Regions from separate parts of the Homo sapiens genome. Here regions 1 and 2 are each linked to region 3. Evidence: fine-mapped expression QTL. A gene starts in region 3. Each other region holds a variant in brackets. All regions are shown on one strand. Distances are from middle to middle. Region 1 overlaps ERFL (ETS repressor factor like). Region 2 holds the start of B3GNT8 (UDP-GlcNAc:betaGal beta-1,3-N-acetylglucosaminyltransferase 8). Region 3 holds the start of CEACAM21 (CEA cell adhesion molecule 21).

The links.
Region 1: its variant is fine-mapped to the expression of CEACAM21 in whole blood (TOPMed, PIP above 0.99).
Region 2: its variant is fine-mapped to the expression of CEACAM21 in whole blood (INTERVAL, PIP above 0.99).

Annotation. Positions count from the first base shown.
Region 1 is chr19:41,910,359-41,917,891 of GRCh38, reverse strand. It overlaps ERFL (ETS repressor factor like), which reads left to right. Exons shown (of 6, transcript NM_001365103.2): 2 at 4,960-5,039. The coding sequence starts at 4,973. It also overlaps a transcript of ARHGEF1 not described here. Among named protein-coding and RNA genes, the nearest start is that of ERFL, 14 kb to the left of the region's middle. The variant A/G (reference allele first, on the strand shown) is at 3,439.
Region 2 is chr19:41,422,157-41,429,560 of GRCh38, reverse strand. BCKDHA (branched chain keto acid dehydrogenase E1 subunit alpha) reads right to left here. Exons shown (of 9, transcript NM_000709.4): 6 at 7,191-7,397; 7 at 6,791-6,932; 8 at 6,392-6,563; 9 at 4,559-5,123. The coding sequence ends at 4,953. It overlaps B3GNT8 (UDP-GlcNAc:betaGal beta-1,3-N-acetylglucosaminyltransferase 8), which reads left to right and starts at 2,187. Exons shown (of 2, transcript NM_001385648.2): 1 at 2,187-2,277; 2 at 2,751-4,202. The coding sequence starts at 2,783. The coding sequence ends at 3,976. RefSeq lists silencers at 1,867-2,016, 2,037-2,146. The variant G/A (reference allele first, on the strand shown) is at 4,828.
Region 3 is chr19:41,571,234-41,578,766 of GRCh38, reverse strand. CEACAM21 (CEA cell adhesion molecule 21) reads right to left here and starts at 2,601. Exons shown (of 7, transcript NM_001098506.4): 1 at 2,429-2,601; 2 at 1,208-1,567. The coding sequence starts at 2,492.

The sequences.
Region 1 (7,533 bases), 340 kb before region 3:
CAGATGGGACAGGGTGTTGGGGGCTCGTTTGTGTGGCAACAGATGGGTGGGGCTGGCAGCCGTCCCATGGCTGGGGCTGTGCATGGTGTGTGTGTGCCTACTAGTGGGTGTCACTGTGGGTCTCTACTGTGTGCACAGATGTGTCCTACATGGGCGTGTGGCGTAAGGAGAGATATGTCCCCAGATTGTGCCTGAACGTGTGGCCATGGGTGGGTGCAGTCAGGGTGTGTGTGTGCGTGCGTGCGTGTGCTTTGGGGCATGGTGTGTGCATGCGGGGGCGGCGGTGGCAGAAGGGTCTTAGGCCGCGTCTCTCTCCTCTTTAGACAGAGCCCCGGAGAAGATATGAAATTTAAAAAAAAAATCAATTTTCATTCCGATTGTGCAGATTGTGTTAAGGGGAGGTGGGGATGGGGGGGCCTGGGTGAGGGATGAAGGGGCTGGTGGTGGGGGTGCGAGGCCCGAGGCGGCTCCCGAGGCGGCCGGCGCAGCTTAGAGAAATCAAAACAACTGGTTAAACCCCAGCCCAGGGGGGCGTGGTGATGGGGCGTTAGGAGACAGAGGCAGAGAGAGATGACAGAGAGCTCAGAGACAGAGAGGGACAGAGACAGAGAGAGACAGAGAGATGCACCCAGAGAGAGAGATGGGGGAAACAGAGACACTCAGAGATGGAGATATTTAGAAAGACAGGCAGGCCAAGATGAGCAGAAAAGACCCTCTCTGACAGAGACAGACAGAGACCCTCAGTGACAGAGACAGACAGAAAGATGCGCCGACACCCGAAGGGGCTGAGAGAGACCGAGAGACCTGTGTCTCGAGAGGCAGTCACAGAAGCAGGTCTGAGACAAGGGCACGTGTCACATATGTGCACACACACACACACACCCATGCAGAGACATGCTTGGGAAGTTCACAGATGGAGGGACAGGCAGACAGATGGGGATGGTGGGAGCAGGAGTGGCAGGGGCCTTGGGTTGGGGTCATCTCTGAGTGCCCACCCCTACCCAGTGTGTCTGGGTGTGTCTGTGTGTACCTCTGCAGGGGCCGCTGTCGGTCGTATGTTTGGGTCCGTGATCTTGGTGTGTGTGTGTGATTGTGACTGTGTCTGTGAATGGGTGTGTGTGTGGCCGTGTGCGTTGGCTGTCTGGGTTGGTGCTGGTGTGTGTATCTCTACGGCTCCATGCGTGACCAAGTGCATATGTATGCGCTCGAGGGTCGGTGGTGCTTGGTTGTGTGACTGTGTGTCTGTTTCTGTGTGCTGTTGTCTCAGTGTGCGATTGTGTGCTTGGGAATCTGGGTTTCTGTATTTGATTGTGAGCCTCAGTGTGTGATTATGTGTTTACACAGTGTGTCTAGGATTTGTGATTTTGTGTCTTTGTTTCTGTGTGAGATTGAATTGATGTGTCATGTGTGTATTTGTGTAAAACTGTGTGTCTGTTTCTGTGCATCTGTGACTATGCTGATGTGTGTGTGTGTGACTGTGACAGTGTTGGTGTGTGACTTTACTGACACATGCATCTGTGTGATGTGGGTTGTGTGTGGCAGCAGTGGTATGCGTTGCTTTGTTGGTGTGTGTGATGTGTTGTGTGGGACGTGGTGCTGTGTGTGACTTTGTTGACATGTGGGCTCATGCAGTGTGTGGTATGTGATGGTGTGTGTGTGGCTGTGCTGGTGTGTGCATCTGTGCGATGTGTGCTGTGTGGGACGTGGTGGTGTGCGTGCCTGGGTTGGTGTGTGGGTCTGTGTGGTTGTGCTTGGCAGGGAGAGAAGGGAGGAGGGCCCTCGCCTGCCCAGCGCCTCTGCACACCGCTTCGCTCACATGCGCACACACATTCGGTGCCATGGCTGCGGGCGGTAGAGATGGGGGGCGAAGGGGGGGTGGAGGAAGCAAAATAAAATTAAAAATTAAAGCTTGCCTGGAGTACCCATCCGCACCACGCCGGCCGGCGGGGGGGAGGGGGGTGGGGGATTGTGGCTGCTCCCCATCCACAGCCACTGGGGCTGGGGCCGTTTGTCCATCTGTCCGGCCGTCCTGCCAGGCCCTGTTTGGCCCTGCAGCCCCAGGCCCCGCAGGCCGCGCTCCCTCCATCAGTCGATCAGCGATCAATGGGGCCAGGGGGGCGCCAGGGGCAGGGTGAGATCAAAGGGACCCCAAGAGACGGACACCGGGACAGAAACAGAGACAGAGACATAGAGACATGGAGATGGAGACATGGAGACAGAGACACAGAGACAGGGAGATGGGGCATGGAGACAGAGACAGATGAGACAGAGATGGGGGACATGGGGACAGGACAGGGACTTGAGGAGGAGGAGATATGGAGATGTGGAGACGGAGACAGGGGTGTGGAGACCCTAGACATTAAAACAGAGCCATGTGGAGACCCAGAGACATGGGGACACAGAGACGTGGGGACACAGAAGTGGAGACGACGTGGGAACCAAGAGACAGGGAGGCATGGAGACCCAGAGATGGGAGGGACGGACAGACGGACGGGGACAGGGCGGCAGAGGCGATGGGCAAGGGCGAGGGGTCCAGGTCCCTGTGGGGCCTGACACAGGACGAAGGCTGGGCACAGAGACTGCGAGATGGCAGAGACGCGTGTGAGACACGGCGGGGGGAGCGTGGGAGCAGGGCCCGGAGCGCCGATCCCACGGCTCCTCGTTATAACGTGTCCGGAGGAGGCGGCGGGGAGTTGAAAGCGTCGGGAAGAGAAATCAAAACCAACACGGAAATGAGAGGGGCCAATAGGGGGTGGGGGCGGGGGGAGGAAGGAGGGGGACCCTGAGAGGCAAAGAGAGCGGGAGGTGGGAGAGCGATGGGTGGGGGAGAGGTGTGGGGGAGCGGGGCTGCTGGAGAGACGCGGGACAGGGACACGGTGGGGGCAGAGACAGGAGAGACAGAGATGCTGGAGGGGGAGGGAGGGAGAGACAGAGATAGTGGAAGAGGAGGGAGAGACAGAGACGGAGATGGTGGAGGGGGAGGGAGAGACAGAGACAGAGATGATGGAGGGGAGGGAGAGACAGAGATGGTGGAGGGGGGGAGAGACAGAGACGGTGGAAAGGGGGGGAGACACGGTGGAGGGGGAGGGAGAGACAGAGACGGTGGAAGGGGAGGGAGAGACAGAGACGGTGGAAGGGGAGGGAGAGACAGAGATGGTGGAAGGGGAGGGAGAGACAGAGATGGTGGAAGGGGAGGGAGAGACAGAGATGGTGGAAGGGGAGGGAGAGACAGAGATGGTGGAAAGGGAGGGAGAGACAGAGACAGAGATGGTGGAAGGGGAGGGAGAGACAGAGATGGTGGAAAGGGAGGGAGAGACGGAGACAGAGATGGTGGAAGGGGAGGGAAAGACGGATAGCAGAGATGGGGAGAAAGTCATAGGGAGACAGAGATGGACACACTGGGAAGATGGAGAGACAGATGGAGAAGAAGCAGGGGTG[A/G]GAGATGGAGAAACAGGGAAGAGACTGAGGGGTGGAGGAGGAGATGGAGACGAGAGGGAGAGGGCAGTGAGGTGGGGAGAGAGACCCCCTTGGTGGAGGAGAGAGACAGAAATGGAAGGGAGATGGTGGGGGGAGACGGAAGGGAGAAGAGACCAAGTGACCGGAGAGACAGAGATGGAGAGGGAGAGATACCGAGACGGGGCAGATGGAGAAAGACGGGGAGACAGGTGTGGGAACAGAGGGGGCCTGGGACAGGGGAGGCTCCAGGAGGCAGATGGGAGGTGGGGGCATCTGAGGTTGGGGCCTCTGTGGGGAGACCGGGCGAGTCTGAGGGGACATGGGGTGTCTGAAAAGTTTTGTCCAGTGTCCAGGGGTAGGCGGGGCTCACGGGGGAACACAGTGTGGGCTGCCAGGGTCTGAGGGGTTTCTGGCTGGGGGGCGCATGGGAGCAGTGGGGAGTATCAGGGTGTCTAAGAGGAGTGGGTTTTTGAGAGCGTCTGGGGGGTCTCCAGGAAGAAGGTGCTCCAGAGGTGGGGTGTGAGGGTGGCAGTGAGGGGCTGAAGTGCCTGAGGGGAGGGGTCTCGGGAGCGCGAGGGCAGCGTGTGTCTGCGGAGGGGTGTGAGAGGGAGTGGATTGCAAGGGTGTGTGTGTGGAGGGGAGGCGCCATAAGAGGGGGAAAGGTGCGGGGAGACTGGAGTGAGGAGGGGATGGAGTATCTTAGGGGCGTAAGATATCTAGGGAGAGGGAGTGTCTGAGGGAGGGGGTCTGACAGGGGAGGCAGATGTGAGGGGAAGGGGTGTCTGAGGAGGGAGGCAGATCCAAGTGACAGGGGTCTTCAGGGTGAGCAGCAGGTCTAGGGTCTGTGGAGGCCTCCTGCAGGGCGCTGGGGGCTGCCCTGTGGGGTAGAGGACTGGAGGAGGGGGTGCTGGGCCTGCCCCCCTGCAGCCCGTCCTGGGCGGCTGCGGGTCAGGGCTGCGCCTGGGCTGGAAGAGCCCGCCTGGGGGTCGTCCGGGTGGGGCGGGTGTGGGGGCAAGTTATAGAACAAGATAAATCTGGGGCAGCCAGAGAGAGAGACAGAGGGAGACCCAGAGACGCAGGGACCGACCGACCCGGGAGGTCAGGCGGGAGAGCGGGGACGGGAGACGGCAGCAGAGACGGTGCGGGGCGCGAGCGGCGGGCGGGCGGGCGGGCGTGAGAGCCAGCGAGTGTGAGAGCGTGAGCGAGTGGCGGGGAGCGGGGAGGGAGGCTGGGAGCGGCGTAGTTAGTGATGGAGGCACCGAGTGAGGAGGAGGCTGCGGGAGGAGAGGCTGGGAGGGAAGGAACGGGGTCTCGGGGCCGGGAACGGCTGGGGACAGAGCGGTGCCTGCGGGAGGGAGTGGGCAGGAGGGATTGCGGGGAGAGGGTGTCAGGCTGGGGTGGGGACCTGGGAGAGGGGAAGGCCCCGGGCAGCGCCCCGCTGGCTGACCTGTGTCTGTCTCTCCTGCCCACCCCGTCCCCGTGTGTCCCTCCCGGCCTCTGCAGGGCCGGCTCCGCCATGGACTGTAGCTGCGTCTCCGACCTTCTCTTCGCCCCGCCCGCCCTGCCGGCTCTCTGGACCCCCGGTAACTGGCCCGGACCTCCCCCACCCCTTCCCCCACCCCTCAGGCTTCCCCAGTGAGCCGCATCCCCCTTCTCTCCGTGTCTCCACGTGTCTCACTCTAGTCCGTGGGTCCTTCTCTCTCAGTCTTGGTCAGTCCCCCAAATCAAACCCCTTCTGAGAAACTTGGCTAAAAACTTCGCAGCCAGATTCCCCTGCCCCCTGCGTGCTGGGGGGATAGGTGGGTCTTCTGGGAGGGTACGGAAGTGAGTGAGGGGTGAGGACGGAGGGGCCCGAGGCCCGGGCATCCCTGCCACGCACGTCTCAGCCTGCTCCCACGCAGGACCTGCGGGGAAAAGAGAGCAGGGACTGGGCTGGAGGGGGCACTAGGCCAGGCACGGATGGACAGGTAGACAGACGGCACTGCCCAGTCAGGGGTACGTGCAGGCACGACCCGGCCAGACCGAGACCCAGGAAAGAGGACAGCTTGCAACCGGGGTTGGTGGACGGTGAAGCTGGTCAGACACCATGCTGATGTGCAGCGGGAGGGGTGTGTGTGTGTGTGAGAGACAGACAGAGACTCTGTCCTTGGTTATTTGGGGTCTCATTTCAGTGTGTCCCTGTGTCACACTTCAGTGTTTCTAGAAGGGGTCACACTGGGAGAATGTGTCTGCACAGCCTGTCTTTGTGTGAGCTTGTGTATTTGCTTGTACGTGCACATCTGAGGCTACTTGAGTGTCTCTGGGCTGGGCGTGTCCGCATTTTGGGATGGGGGCGTCTGCCAGCTCTCCGACTGTGCCTCTGCCTGAGTGGGGTGAGGAGCCTTTGCCTGTTTCTTGCGGTCTGTCTCGGGTTGTGTGGCGTTCCGCATGGCTGTCTTGGTGCATTTGGGGCTGTGGGGGGGATGCATCCCTGGGCCTCTGTGTTGGGGGCTGTGTCTGGTTTTCAGCGTAGGGTCCATGTGCACATGAGTGAATTCTGGGGGTTTGTCTGTCACATGTGTGTGTCTGCCTACTGAGTTTGGGGGTCCTCTCTCTAGCTGTGCCTGTGCCTCATAGGTACAACATATTTGAGGGTGTGCATTTGAGGACAGATGGAGTATCGGGTTGGGTGTCCTCTTGTCACCTTGGGGTCCTGTGGGTGTGTCTGTGATACAGTTGCCTCCCCAGTAGGATGTGTTCTGGGTGTGGAATGGGTCAGAGCTGGAGTCTGGATCCAGCCCTGTCATGGGAGGTGAGAAAGACCCAAAAATGAATGGAGATAAAAATTCTCCCTCAAGGAGACTGCCTGGAGCTCCCCGGCCTTCAGGCCGGGAGGCACAAGCACCCACTTTTCTACACCAGGCAGCCTGGGTGGGACCCTGCGCCCCCTTGCCTTCCACCTGTGCAGTTCTAAACCAGAGAGGGTAAGGACCTGCCCGTAATCACACAGCAAGTGGACACGGCGATGCTGGTCTCCCCTGCCCTGGCGCACAGCAGTCTCCTCTCTCCTGCACTGCTGCCAGCTTTTTATGGACTCACTCTGCCTTCTATTTTCATGCCTGGGTCTGGGGTCTCTGAGGAGGGGGAAGGGGACAGAGGATGTGGCATAAGAGTGAACACAGAAGTTGGACCCAGGGCTTGGGGCCTTCTGCATGGGAGATGAGATTTCGGGGTGCCCAGCTCCTGGGGGTATGTGGACAGTGGAGTACTCCCCTCTGCATGTGAGACGTGATGCTGAGTGAGCCGGGGGTGTCAGTGCTGACATGTGGGTGCCTCTGTGTGCAGGTTTGGGAAGTTGCTCTACTGACATGCTGTCACCCTGTGTGTCTGGGGACATGGATATCTTGGTGCTGTGTTCACCGTCTCCATCGTACAGTGTGTTCTTTGGGCATTTGGGGTCCTGTGTGTGTCTTGTCAGGCATTTGTGTTGTTAGTAAGTCCCAGTCTTGAGATGTGTAATTCTGTGTTGTGATGGGTGTGCACTGTGGGGTTGTTGAGATGACGTGACCTTGAGTCTTGCGCAGCCTGTGTCTGCCATGTCAGCCTTGGTGGCCCCCAGCATGAGTGTGGCACTCCGGTGTGCCTGTGTCCCAGTGTGGCTGTGTGTCTCAGGCAAGTGAACTGATGTCTGTGTGACATGTCTTCCGTGGGCATGTGTGTGTCCACGCACACACACACATCGTTCTGGACTGCTCTTGGACGGACATGGGCATGGATATGGGGTGGAGGGGACACAGGGACGGGAAAGGTACAAATACACAGGCAGGTACAGACATGCACAGAGCTGCAGCCTGGATATGCCAGGATGGGTCAGTGGGGGGCTCTGGGGAATGTCGAAAGGTGGAGCAGGGGACAGGGAATGGGGAACAGAGACAGTAAGAGCTGAGGGCACCGCAGGGTACAAGAGACTAGAGACCTCCTAGGGCTGGCTGGGGGCAGTGAGAGGACTAACGCTGTTGGAGGCGGGTGCCCCTCCCCATTCCTCCTCACTGTCATGGGTGCAGGAAGCCAGTCCCTCCCAACTCCACCTCTGGATGC
Region 2 (7,404 bases), 150 kb after region 3:
CCCTTGCTGCCTCTAGACCCATAAATACCTAGGGTGAAATCAGCTTGCTCCAGGTGAACAGGTGCCAGCTAGGACCTAGGCGGGAGCAGCTTTTACACTATAAGAATGACAAGGCTTCGCAAATATACAGAGTCAGAAACTTGGGGAATGTGTGCAGAAGGGGATTTTAAGGATGTTACACCAATGAGGGTGGATGTAACACTAGCTCAGGCCAAATTTACTGGCATGAGTGCGCTTTCTAGAGCTTCTGGATTTCATGGGTTACCTTGTGCAGCTGGACGTAGTTCTAATAGCTTGCTTGGGTGCCTAACCGGAACTTGGATCCAACAGTGGCCTAAAGTTAATGAGGCAGAGAGACCAGAACTGCCCTAGCATAAGATGGGTGAGGGGAGTCCCAAGGCTTGGGGAGACAGAAGTGTTGGATTGGAATGATCGTGTTCCACCAGCATGTCCACCCTCCAACCATGTTCCCCAAGAAGGCACCCCTTAGTGGCCAATCCCATGAGAGTTAATCATTCTGTATATTGAACTTTCCCTATTCCCATTCCTGTGTGGTTTCTCTCTCCTGATTGGACCCGGACTGAGGCACATGGCAAAGGCAAAAAGAAAGGCACCTTGTGAAGCTTCCTAATGCTTCCAGGAGGAGCAGCACCCCCTGCCCCCAGAAGCTAGATGAGCTCAGGGGGCCTGGAGTCCCTCTCCCCCAGCCCCAGAGTGGAGTGGGCTTGCAGACTCCCTCAGGAGGTGCTCGGGCCCCTGCCCCCAGCCCCTAGCTGTCATTTCCCACTCCAACTATTATTCCATTAATATTCACCACTTCCTCCCCACTCTCTTCCTCCAGCTGTTCCCACAGGCTCCATTATTCAAACTTTGGGGGAGGAAATCAGGGCTGGACAGATCATCAACTGCTGCTGCTGACAGACTGTGTTCCTGCCATGATGGGGACAGGCCTGCCCCAAACCAGGGTGGAGTGAAGGGGTCAGCCCAGGCTTAGTGGGAGCCCCTTAGTCTTACCCCATGTCTTGGGAGGTCTTCAGAGAGCTGATGCAGTCCCAACAGCAGGGGCCCCTGGAGGGCAGGGATGCAAACACAGGCAGACACCCCCTCCTGCCCCAAGGGGCTGGATGTGAGTGTTCCTGGAGTCACAGTGCCGCTGGGGGAGGGGAGGGGCCCGGGGTGAGGCTGGCTCCAGGCCGGAGGTTGGGGGTAAGGTAGGAACAGATTCCCACGCTGCTGGGCAGGCAGCCCGGGTGCCGAGAGGGATGGAGGAGGTACAGGGGATCAGCTTAGCTCCCGGGGTTCCCCGTGGGCCCCACCCCGTCACCCTCTATTGCCCTTGAAGCTCCAGTCTTTTCCTCTCCTGTTCTTCCCCTTGGCTCCCTCTCCGCCTCTGCCTGGGTCTGGCTCGGAAGCCTGAGTCCCTCCCCTCTGCCCTCCACCTGCCTCTCTCAACCTCTCTTTCCCCATGAGCACCCCACAGGGCTTCCGCAACCCCTTATCTTTCTCGCCATCTCCATTTCCCTCCCCCTCTCCCTCCTGGCCACCTTCCCACTTGCCCGTCTTCTCTCTCTCTCCCCCTCAGCTCTCTCCATCGCCTGTCTCACCCCAGTTCTCCTCTCTCTGCTCCCTGGCCGTCTCTTCCCTCTCCACAATGTCTCTGTCTCTCCTTCTCCTCACCAGCCCCGTTCCCCCCACCTCACCCTGACTGGGCAGCAACAACAAACATCCCTCTGGCAGGCCCGCCGATCCCTTCCCACTCAGCACATTCACTGCCGCCTCCTGGCCATGGGTGCAGCCGGGCGCCAGCCTCTCAGCCTCCCCATCTCTGCCTCAGTGGGACCCTGCCTCGCCCTGGTCACTCTAACACTCCCCAGCCCAGGCCCAGCCTTCAGCCCCACCCTCCCTGGCACCCCCTGGCCCTGGTTCTCCCCTCCCAGGCCTCACAAAGCCCCCGTCTTGTTTCTGTGGCTGCCCCCTGCACCCTTCCCAGCTGTCTCACCAGAAACCAGCCCTAACACGCCAGAGCCCCATCTCTCAGGTCGGCCTCCTGCCCTCCTCCCTCCCTCCCTCCCTCCCTCTCTCCTGCCTCAGCCCCGCCCCGGCCCCTGGGGCCCTCCCTGCTCCCGCTCCACTCCCCTCCCCGCCCCTCTGGACTGGCTGGGCAGGGCTGGGCCCCGCCGGTCGACAACACAGGGGCTGGGGCAGGCAGATCAGAGGGAGCTGAGGGAGGCCTGACCTGAGGCCGGCACCCGGAGCTGGCGGGAGCCAGACCCAGAGGTAAAAAAGCATGGGATCCCTGGTTCCCCAGTCCCTGGGGTTGGGGTGTTGCGGGAGGCAGGCTGGGTTTCTAACCCCAGGGAGCTAGGAATCCCGCTCCTGATTTCCTGGTGAGGGCAATAAATGGAGGGAGAGGGAGGAGATAGACGGCAAGGTCCCTTGTCCTGGATGGAGACAGGGAAGAGGTAGACCCTTGGGCTTTTAGGAAGGTGGAAGCATTTGGACGGAGTGGGAAGAACAGGGTGCTGGTACGGGATTGGAATGGGGGACTCCTAGGTCTAGGAATAAGGACCAACGAGGTCCCTGGGTCAGGGGAGCTGTTTAGGATCTGGGACCGAGAGAATCTGTTATGGGGGTTGGCGGGGACTATGGGAGATTGTGAAGCTGTCTGCCTGGGGCCTGGCTGGGCCCTCTCTGGAGGCCCATCCCCACACCCCAATGGCCTCCGTGGCTCCCCTGTGGCTCCCTTGTAGCTCCCGCGGCCGCCCCTTCCCTGGGCCGGGTCATGCGCTGCCCCAAGTGCCTTCTCTGCCTGTCAGCACTGCTCACACTCCTGGGCCTCAAAGTGTACATCGAGTGGACATCCGAGTCCCGGCTCAGCAAGGCCTACCCCAGCCCTCGGGGCACCCCGCCAAGCCCCACGCCAGCCAACCCTGAGCCCACCCTACCTGCCAACCTCTCCACCCGCCTGGGCCAGACTATCCCGCTGCCCTTTGCTTACTGGAACCAGCAGCAGTGGCGGCTGGGGTCCCTGCCCAGTGGGGACAGCACTGAAACGGGGGGCTGCCAGGCTTGGGGGGCCGCCGCCGCCACCGAGATCCCTGACTTCGCCTCCTACCCCAAGGACCTCCGCCGCTTCTTGCTGTCAGCAGCCTGCCGGAGCTTCCCACAGTGGCTGCCTGGAGGTGGTGGCAGCCAAGTCTCCAGCTGCTCAGATACTGATGTCCCCTACCTGCTGTTGGCCGTCAAGTCAGAACCAGGGCGCTTTGCAGAACGACAGGCCGTGAGAGAGACGTGGGGCAGTCCAGCTCCAGGGATCCGGCTGCTCTTCCTGCTAGGGTCTCCGGTGGGTGAGGCGGGGCCTGACCTAGACTCACTAGTGGCCTGGGAGAGCCGTCGCTACAGTGACCTGCTGCTCTGGGACTTCCTCGACGTCCCATTCAACCAGACGCTCAAAGACCTGCTGCTGCTGGCCTGGCTGGGCCGCCACTGCCCCACCGTGAGTTTTGTCTTGCGAGCTCAGGACGATGCCTTTGTACACACCCCTGCCCTGCTGGCTCACCTGCGGGCCCTGCCACCTGCCTCGGCCCGAAGCCTCTACCTGGGTGAGGTCTTTACCCAGGCCATGCCTCTCCGGAAGCCAGGAGGACCCTTCTATGTGCCCGAGTCCTTCTTCGAAGGTGGCTACCCAGCCTATGCAAGCGGGGGTGGCTACGTCATTGCCGGGCGCCTGGCACCCTGGCTGCTGCGGGCGGCAGCCCGTGTGGCACCCTTCCCCTTTGAGGACGTCTACACTGGCCTTTGCATCCGAGCCCTGGGCCTGGTGCCCCAGGCCCACCCAGGCTTCCTCACAGCCTGGCCAGCAGACCGCACTGCGGACCACTGTGCTTTCCGCAACCTGCTGCTGGTACGGCCCCTGGGCCCCCAGGCCAGCATTCGGCTCTGGAAACAACTGCAAGACCCAAGGCTCCAGTGCTGACTCTCATTGGGGAGGGCGGAGGTGCTGACCTGGCCTGGGCCTCTGGGGCCGGCCCCTGGCTCAGCCCCTCCTTCCAGGTCTTGATGGGAGGGAGGAGGGCCCAGAAGCTGGACAACTTAAGCCACTCCTTGGCCTCCCCCAGCCAGGGGCCTGGGCAGGAAAGATGGGGTGGTGGACTGTTTTTGCCTACTTTTTGTTTTTGAAAAACATGCACTCCCCACTCTGAGGCCTGGGGTTGTTTTTGCATCTGTGGGGCCCTGGAGTGGTGGGGAGCAGGGCTTGGCCACACCCTGACCTTCATCCTGGACGCTCCCCTGCACCCCTGCTGGGCAGGGCTAGCTCCACTGGGCTCCCCATCACTCTGCTGGACAGCAGGCTTCTCCCATTCTGTGAGAGAGCAGGAGACCATCTCTGGAGGACCCCCCCACCCCCATCCTGTCTGCTGAAGTTAACCTTCCAGCTTGCGCAAGCTTCCGGGGGAAGTAGGTATCTCAAGAGCCTTGACCTTATTTATCTAAGGTGGAGAAGCTGGGGGTGGCCTCAAATCACCCCCAAACTCCAGGAAACAAAGACCAGAGGTGGTAGAGAGCCAGGCGCAGAGATGCAGTTTATTCGTGACCTCTGCTGGCCACTCGCACCTGCGCAAGTTCCACAGGCTGACCTGCCATGTCCACCCCATGCCCAGAGGGGCTTCTAGTCCTGAATGTGCCCTCACCCAGCCCCTGGGAGAAGGCACTGTAACAACAGGTGAAGAGGGGGCTGACGGAGCCTCAGCAACTGCTGCAGATGCTGTCCCCTGACAATGTAACAGCCGGGAGGAGCAGGGGTGAAGAGTGGCAGCCGCCCTGGCC[G/A]CTGAGTATTTTAGAGGGAGCTGACTGGGGAAGACAGTGGTGTGCTGTCAGGTCCCCCTGCTCCCCTTAGAGTGGGGCTACCTCTCGGGGTAGCTGAGGATGGGTGGGGGTGGGCTGAGCAGGTCTCACTTATCGAAGTGATCCAGTGGGTAGTGCTCCCCGTAGGTCTGCAGGTGGCGGGCCAGAGACTCCTGCTGCTTGCGGAGCTGGGCGGGCATCTCCTGATACACGTCTGAGAAGAGTAGGTTGGGGTTGGGTTTGGGCTTCCGCTCGGCCTGCTCAAAGGCCTCCATCACCTGTGGGGACATGGGGCAGTGGGCAGGCTAGCCGGCCTCCCATGCAGGACCCTGCTTCCTCCTGCGGGGCCTTGGCAAGGAATTAACCACTCCAAGCCTTTGTGTTCCCACCTCGACAATGGAAATGATTATCCTAGCAGAAGTGTAATGAAAACCCTCAAATCCCAGCAGGGATCAGGTGCTATCCAAGTGTGTGGAATCATTTAAGGCTTTCAGCAGCCCTAAGAGGTAGACAGCTAAGCAATGAGGAAACTGAGGCACAGAGAAGGGCAGGGACAGGACACACGGTGCTGCCCTATGCCGGGTGCTGCCCTCACCACTGGGCTGCACGGGCCCTGGGTCCTAATGACCGGGCCAGGGAGGGTGGCACACTGACTCTGGGCAGGGCATGTACACTCCACCACGGTTTGCCACCTAATCCTCAAACCAGCTTTTTTTTTTTTTTAAGAGATAGTCTTGCTCTGTTGCCCAGGCTGGAGTGCAGTGGCGCCATCTCCAATCACTGCAAGTTCCACCTCCCGGGTTCAAGCGATTCTTCTGCCTCACCTTCCTGAGTAGCTGGGACTACAGGCACGCACCACCACGCCTGGCTAATTTTTTTTTTTGAGATGGAGTCTTGCTCTCGTTGCCCAGGCTGGAGTGCAATGGTACGATCTCAGCTCACTGCAACCTCTACCTCCCAGGTTCAAGCAATTCTCCTGCCTCGGCCTCCCAAGTAGCTGGGATTACAGGCACCCGGCACCATGCCCGGCTAATTTTTGTATTTTTATTAGAGACGAGGTTTCACCATGTTGGCCAGGCTGGTCTCAAACTCCCGACCTCAGGTGATCTGTCCGCCTTGGCCTCCCAAAGTGCTGGGATTACAGGCGTGAGCCACTGCGCCCAGCCCTAATTTTTGTATTTTTAGTAGAGACAGGGCTTGACCATGTTTGGCCAGGCTGTTCTCAAGCTCCTGACCTCAAGTGATCTGCCACCTCGGCCTCCCAAAGTGCTGGGATTACAGGTGTGAGCCACCATGCCCAGTCTCAAACCAGTTTCTGAAATGGGCACCACCAGCATCCCCTTTCAAAGACAAGGAAGTGGAGGGCAACATGCCAAGGACACAGAGCCAGGACACACATGGCCCCAGCAGCCTGGCTCCACAGGCCACATCTGAGACATCACTGGGGTTATCCCTGAGCCTCCCAGTTCGGTGTTCCACAAATCCTTCCCAAGCTCTGCAGGCCGCAGCAGCCCCCAGCACACCCTCCCGGGCGGGGCACCCTCACCTTCCTGCGGGACTGCTTCCTCCAGGCCTTCTCCTGCTCCTCATCCCACCAGCCTTGGCTCAGCAGATAGTGCCGCAGCCGGGAGATGGGGTGGTCCTGTTTATCCCAGTAATTGACCTCATCCACCGAGCGGTACGCTGAACTGTCGTCACTGGTGCTGTGGTGCCCGATCCTGCACAGGGGCAAGGGGCCCCAGGTCAGTGTGGGCTCCCTGGAGTGGGGGTCAGGAGGGAGGATGGGGGATGAACTAGGGAAGGAGGAGTGGAAACGGAATAAAGGCAAGGGGGAGATGCAACATCAGGTGATAAGGCCATGTTTTGGAGACAGTGATCGATATGAGGAAGATGCTACGGTGGCTGTCAGTGCTGTGGGGGTGCTGACGGGGGGAGCGGCAGGCACCTGTAGGTCATGGCCTCGATGAGGAAGGGCTGGTTCTCTGCCACAGCCCGCCGTCGGGCCTCCTTTGTGGCGTTGTATACGGCAAACACATCATTACCATCCACGCGGATTGACATGATGCCATACCCGGGGCCTCGTGCTGCTGTGGGGACACAGAGAAGGCAGGTCAGGCCAGGGCTGAGATAAGGAACATGCACGAGGCCAAGGGGACGAGCAGGGAGAGGACAGAGAGCAAGGCTGAGTGCTCAGGACCTCAACTCCTGTGGCTGACCAAGTGCCAGACGCCACAGGACACAGGACGAGAACCAGGAAGGAGGGTAGGGGTGGCAGGAAGGTGGCAGGATTGGGGAGGGAAGGAGATGATCCCAGCGGGGTGGGGAGCAGCCAGCAGAGCCCATACCAATGCCATCGCCGCGATACTGCTCAGAGGTGGGCGTGGAGATGGCGTAGCCATTGTTCCGGCAGAAGAAGATGATGGGGCACTCAAGTGTGGCAGCGAAGTTGAAGCCGGCATGGGCGTCCCCCTCACTGGCTGCCCCCTCGCCGAAGTAACAGATGACGACCCTGTTGGCATTGGCCCGCTTGGCTGCGTACGCCGCCCCCACCGCTGCAGG
Region 3 (7,533 bases):
CCAGTGAGGGAAGGAATGTGGATCTGATGGGAGAGGCTTGGACAATCCTGGCATTGAGTCTGATAGTTGAGACAGGTGATTTCGTTCTAAGTAAAAACTGACTAATTCTCCATTTGCCCGTCATTCCTCAGACCAGAATCTCCCTCTCTGAGCTGAGGATGCCCAAGAAGAAAGGAGCTGAACCAACATCTGGTCCTGGGGTCCACAGATGCCCCACGGTGGTGGCCACGACCAGATTCTGGGCTGCAGACACACGGTGGTGTGACGTTGAGCACTGACAGCCTGTGTGATGCTGATGCAATTTCTCTTTAATAAAATGGGGTACATGTCAATGGTCCCTGGCTTGCCATCCTCTCTGTAAATTAACATTAAAATATTTACAATTACCTGACCTAAAGCTTGGCACAGAATAGCTCCAAATAAACATCATCTATTATTATTTTACTCCAAAAAAAAAAAAAAAGAGTTCTCTGGGCCTGATTCCTGGTGGAGAAGGAGCGGTCCAGAGTGTCTTTTCTCTGCTTTCCCTCCTCCTGAGGACAGTGCACTTCCCGGGACATCTTTTAAGTTTCCCATCCAGTTTAATGGCCTGGGAAGTTTGTTTGTCTGTCCTCTCCACTCTGACTCTCAGGTGAAAGATGAGGCTCTGCCCTTGCCCAGATGGGGCTCTGGGGGCTGAGCCCTGCCTGGTGACCAGCTCTAGGAACCACGGCCCTGGGACAGCTGGTAAATCCTTGCTCACAATCAGCCCTGCCCAGGAAGCCACAACCCAGCCCTGGCACAGGCTCCCCAGGGTCATCTGGAGTCAGGATCTTGGGACAGGGGCCTGGGGCAGGGGCTTCAAGGGCTGAGCTTCTCTCAGAGGATCCTCAGGCCAGGCCCTGACTGAGTCCTATAAGATCTTTCTCAGGTCATGTCTATGAGGAGGAGGCCAAGGGGGGTTGGACTGAGACTGATTTTCCCCCGCTGCATCTCCCGCATCAGACTATCCTTCTTGCTGTAGGGAATTTCCACGGAGTCCGGATAAGGGAAAGGAATTCTGATCTGTTATAGTTTGTCTCCCCTGGGTGTGTCCTGCACTAAATGCCCAAACCCCAACATGGGACGTAATGCAGAGGGGGATGCAGGCACAGCCCAGGCCTGACAATCCTGCGTATGTGAAGCAGAACTGACCCCCAACACCCAGAGGCACGGAGGAATCACTCACCGTATACACGGAGATGGTGAGATGCCTGTTCAATCTGAGAATTTCTGTATGTGACTTGTAGGTTGTAGTATCCCGTGTCCTCTAGGGTGACGTTCTGGAAATGCAGATCTCCACTGGGTGATATTGTCTCTCGACCGCTGTATGCAGGCCCTGGAGTCCTAACGTGAGTGTCTATTACATATGCTGCGATTAGCTGGTTGGGCTCCACCGTTTTCCCTTTGTACCAGCCATAGCTGTAAAGATTCTCGGGCAGATAAACCACAGAGAGATGAACATTCTCCCCTTCAGCAACTTCAAAGGGCGCTGATGCAATAAAGAGCCAGGCAGTGGTGGGTGCGTTCCAGAAAGTTAAAAGTGAGGCTAGGAAAGGGAGAGAATATCAGTCAATATTTGACCTATGCATTGGCATGGAAAGACGGGGTCCTGGGTGCAGGTCTCTTCACCCCTCAGCCTTAGAGGGTGTGTGTGTGTGTGTGTGTCCTACTGGGTCAAAGTCAGCAGCATGACCCTCATTCCTTCAGTACCTCTGACCTTGGCATTTCCTTGTGTGAACCCTCTTTCCCAGGGGTCTGCATGGTTCCCTCCCCACTGCCTTCAGTTCCTACTCACACAAGGGAATCCCTGGGAGACTTCTTTCGTGAAGCCTCCTCTAGAGACCCTGGGTCTTCCCTTTCTGACCTTTCCCAGCTCTGTTCCCTCCAGGGCTCTTGTCAGCACCTGACCTCACATTCTAGATCTCTTTGGGTGTCTGTCTTCCCCCCCATGAGATTGTGAGCTCTGTGAGGGCATGGACTTGAGTGATGTTAGTTGCACCCCAGTGCCTGGGACAGGCTGCAGACTCCTGTGGATGAGTTCATGAGCGTTCCCAGGGCCTTCCATATCCTGGGGTTTATTTGCTAATGTCTGAGGTTGGCAGATGAAGACAGAGTTTCATGCCCTGGTGGTGTTTTTATTTAAATTGTCACTGTGATATAGTTTTACTATCATTTTCAAAGTGTAGTGGCCACTGACAATGAACTTGAAAACATGGACCAACTGAGATTGTTTTGCCCCTTGGCAATTCCAGTTCACTTAGATTTTTTGGTTCTCCTTAGACGCTCTCTCCCCTGAGTCTCTAACAAAAGCCCTCTGTCTCCTCTCAGAGCCCCATCCTCCCCAGGAGACCCCAGCCAGTCTCTGTGCTCCCTCCTCCCACCCACTCCCAGGGAGTCCTCCCCTCACCTGTGAGCAAGAGCCCCTGCCAGGGGATGCATTCTCTGTGGGGACAAGCTGAGGGGGGCCCCATGGTCTCTGCTGCCTGCTCTGTCCTCCTCTGTGGAGAGGAGCTTGGGCTCCAGGAACGCTCTAGACAGGGTTACTGTGACTGTTGTCTCTGCTGTCCTTCCTTCCTCTATGCTGAGCTTCCTCTCAGGCAGGAGCACTTCCCGTTTATGGGCAAGGGCGGGGCTCTGCCTACAATGTCTCTCTGTCCCCTCCCCTCTCAGTCCTGCCTCCCTTGTCCCTCCTTTCTCCTTCCTTTTTGCCTATATTTGGTTCCCTAGGCAAAACTTTGAGAAGCAACGCTGATGGGGTCCTCATAACAGGACGACCCACTCTCCCCAGTACTGACCTCTGCTGTGTTCTGGCCTTGGTTCTGTCACAGCCGGTAGATTATTTCCCTTTGTGACACACAAAACCAGCTGGGCCCTGGGTCTCCTCATGCTCTCCAGTGCTCCAGGAAGGCAGAATGATGCCCAGCAGGAAAGTGACAGAGGTGGCTCTGGGGGCTAGAAAGGGGCTCACTGGGTGATGGCTGGGAAGGACCCACCCGCTATCTTCAGTGTCACCAGCCTGGCCTCTGACCCAGGGACAGAGACCCAGGCCTGGAGGTCTCGGGAGGATCCCCAGCTCCTAGGTGTGGAGGGAGGTGTCCTGTGTGTCCTGGGAAGAGAGGACTTTGATGGAAGGAGGTGGGAGGCTCTGGGTTCTGCTGTCCTTGGTGAAGGTTTCAGGGGGACCCTCTCCGTGTCTGGGGTCTGTGCCCCCAGCTTAACTCTCATTCTCTTTGCAAATACATATATTTTGTGGATCTGCAGTTGCCTGAACTGTCTCATGTCCCTAAATCTTTGTATCCCTTTTTACAGAAGGTCAGGAAGGGTGTGTACATGAGTATGAGGACTATCTGATCAGGGCGAGTGTTTGTTTCCCAAAGATCTCTTTAGATATGGTATAATACATAAGATAAATGTACTGAATTAGCAATTTTAAGTGTAGAATTAAATGATACTAATTCTATTCACAATGTTGTACAACCATCACCATAATTTTTTACCAGAAAATCTTCATTATACCAAATGGAAACTTCATACTTTTAATCAATAACTCCCCACTTCCCCCTGCCCCACCCACTGGTAGCCTCTGATACTATCAATCTCTGTGAATTTGCCTAGTTTACATGTCTCATATAATAAGGAATTATATACGTGTATTATTTTTTTCTGGATTATTTCTCTTAGGGTAACACTTTTAAGATTCATCCACGTCGTAGCATATATTACAGCTTCTTTCCTATTTATGGCTGAGTAATATCCCAATATATGTTTATACCTCAATTTTAATTCATTCATCTCTTAATGGACATGTGGGTGGTTTCCACATTTTTGCTATTGTGAAAACCGCTGCAATGAACTTACACTTGGAAGTATCTGTTTGGGTTTCTGTGTTCATTTCTTTGGGGGTACATATAGGAGTATAAATATGGGGTCATGTGGTAGTTCTATGTTTAAGTTTTTGAGAAACAGCCAAACTGTTTTCCAGTTTGCTGTGCTATTTTATATTCCCATCAGCAATATACGAGGGTTCCATTTTCTCTACATTCTTGTAAACACTTACTATTTAATATTTTTTAAAACTTATAGCCATTCTAGTAGGTGTGAAGTGATAGCTCATTGCAGTTTTGATTTTCATTTCCCTGGTGGCTGATGAAGTTGAGCATTTTTTCATGTATTTGCTGACAATTTTAATATTTTTTAGAGAACTATTTATTCAAATCATTTGCTGTTTAAAAAAAATGGGTTATCTTTTTATTATTCAGTTGTAATAGTTCTTTATATATTTTAGATACAAGTCCCTTATGGGGTACATGATTTGCAAAATTTTTCTCATATTCTGTGTCTTCTCACTTTCTTCATGGTGTTCTTTGAAGCACAAACATTTTTAACTTTGATGAAGTTCACTTATCTATTTTTAATTTTGTTACTTATGCTCTTGATGTCATATTGAAGAAACCATTGCCCAATCCAAGATCATTAAGTTTTACTCCTATATGTTCTTCTAATGGTTTGATAAGTTTTGCTATTCCATTTAGGTTTTTGAAACATTTTGAGTTAACTTTTGTATGGGCTGTGAGGTAGGGGTCTAACTACACTATCTCGCATGTGGTTATCCAGTTGTTCCAGCACAATATGAAGAGGCTACCATTCTTTCCCCATTGAGGAATCTTGGCACCCATGTCAAAAACCAATGGGCTGTAATGGTGAGGGTTTATTTCTGGACTCTTGATTCTATTCCATTGATCTCTATGTGCATTCTTGTGCCAGAAGCACACTGTTTTAATGATTGTAGTGTTTTAGTAAGTTTTCAAATTAGGAAGTGAGTCCTCCAATTTTTTTTTCCAGATTGTTTTGGCCATTCTGGGGTGACTTTTAAAAAAGATGTAGTTCAATGGTTCTCAAAGCAGGAGTGGTTCAGCTCTCCTTTTTTGGCAGTCTGGAGACCTTTTTAGGACCTTAATCTAAGTAGATAAATTATTCCCACTTTCTTTTCTGAGTTGCTATGTTACAGTGTATATTGACACCCATGAAATAATTGAGAGACCCTGGAAGTGCTTGCCTACATAGTGAGGGACAATTAGTTCCATGATCATGGGCACAGAAGATTTTGTTTTGGGAAACAATTTTGTTGGTGGAGTTATATTCATGCTTACTCTTTTATTTGTCTTCATAGCCTGCATCTCCTTCAGACTTCATATCTGTTTATTTTCTTGTTTGTCCTCTGGGGTTTGGGTGTTGGGTGACCAGTCAGCTGGAGCTGGAGGAGGTGCTTAGCAAGGCAGTGACCCTGGTTGGGAGGAGCAGGGCTCAGCAGGGTGAAAGTAGCTGGGCCTTGAGTCAGGAGTGGCATCTGGAAGGCCTGACTGTAAGGGTCAGAAGGGCCAGCAGGTGGGTGTCCTAGGCACAAACGGTGGCTGCTGCTGTGGACTGGAGGAAGGTAAGAGGCCCCGAGTATTCCATGTTCTTACTGGCTCCCCAACTGAGGATTCCTCTCCTGGGCTGGTGCTGTCCTGCAGCAGGGAGGGGTTAGACAGGGACGGCTGCACATCAGGCCGGAGTCCATGTCATCCTCTTAGGCACTGTCACTACAGATTGAGGATTCTGTTCATAAGCCAAGCCTTTGCACAAGGAAGGGACCCGGGCTCTCAAGGAAGAGCAGCTCCTGGTCAGACCTCCATCTCCTTCTCTCTCATTGCCTGAGGCCTCAAGCTTGGTCTACCTGGCACAGGGGTCTGGATCCTCCTCCCAGGGTTGGGGTCTTACTGAGCTGGGCACCTGCAGGTGGGAGAAGATCTGGAGGGGCCCCATCTGCCTTCACCAGATTGATGTTGAGGGTCCCTGAGTCCTGCACCACTATCAGGTGCTGAGCAACTTCCAGTGTCAGTGACAACCACCCCATGGTGGAAGCAGAACCACCTCGTGAGAAAGCACCTCCAAGCCTCAGTGCTTGCCATGTGTGGGAATTTGCTGGTTTCAGTTGGGGGCATGTTGGTGGGTGGTCATGAATTCAGGGCCGGATTCTATGCTCACAGTGCACATGCTGGATGTGGTACAGACCCCAGGCAGGGCTCAGTGGGGTGGTTTTGGGTGTGCACAGGTATCTTTTCTGGAGGAGCTGGTGGTGATTTGGCTCCCAGAAGTTCCTGAGCTCTGCAGACTCACCAAGCACTCAATATTTGAGTGAACATTGGGCGAGAGAGCAGAAGGTAAGTGTCAGGGCATCGGGGTTGGTGCCTCTGGGAAGAGGAGGAACATTCTGGGAACAAAGCTCTCCCCCGGCTTACAGGGAGCTTCCCATCGCTCCTGCCTTGAGGATCAGGGAAACTAGGGCCTCTGCTCTTCCAGGGGCTGCTTGCAGGCAGTTTGCTCTGGGAGGGGGTGACCCAGGAGTTGCCTCTCATTTTGCATTTGAGATTTAAAAGGAGAAGGGACAGTATATCTTGCCAGGTCACAAAAATTACAGGCATCATATTGACTGAAGGGCACTCCTGTCATCATTGCAATATACCAGAATGGTCTTTTAAAAAAATAAGTGATTTAGGTTTACCAGCAACTGTAATGCTTGTTTTATTCTTCTAGTTCACCGTTAATGTCACTTTTGTAGTTTTAGCACTGGCAATGTTGATTTTATGTTGACTCTGATGATTTTAAGCTTTCATTTGTTCACATAGAGATCATCTTCTTTCTGAATATTAATGCATTTTTTCTCTATTTCTACTGGTTATTCCTGTACATAGAGTAGAGAATCACTTTTCCCAAGGAGGTGGAAAGCTTCTGACTACCAAAAAAAAAAAAAAGTGTCAAAATGCTTTAAAGTCAGTAACTTAAAGATCAAATCCAAGAGTGGGCAACAGATTCTGCCCAGGGTCTGAAAGGTGGAGAGGTGACTGGTGAGGATGTTTAAAAGACCTCTCCTCTCTACTCCCTAAATGGGGGCCATCCAGTGTTCTTGAGGTTCAGAGAAGGCCCAGGGCTGGGGCAGCAGGGCACTGTCAGCTCCCAGCTCCCAGGGGCCAGGAGTAAGACCCCAACACTGTCCAGACACTGATTGCATTCATTTTGGGGGAGAGTAGATTCTTATTTAAAGAATAATACAAAAGTCTACAAATTTGAACATAAACAGAAATTCCTTTGCTACAATTTTCCCCTTAATAAGACATTCCTTCCTAATGACATATGTGACTGCATTCATGGCTGAGATGTTTTCTAGGATGGTGAGAGCATCAGAGTGGACTATCTGGTGCCTTGGGGTCATGCATTTTCTTCTTTCAATGTCTACAGGATCCCCCATGTCCCACTTTGTAGTGTAACTCAGTGTGTGTCATTCTGGTTTTTGTTGTATAGATCCTTGGAAAGCCCATGTCATTCCTGCTGTGAGGTACAGGCAGCCAAATGGCATCATCTCTAAACATGCCTTCTCCTGGTACATCAAATTATGGAATAAATGAAAGCCATTTTGACAGATATTGAAGATATAAGTTTCTACTCTTCCCACACATGCGATTCTTCTCCCAA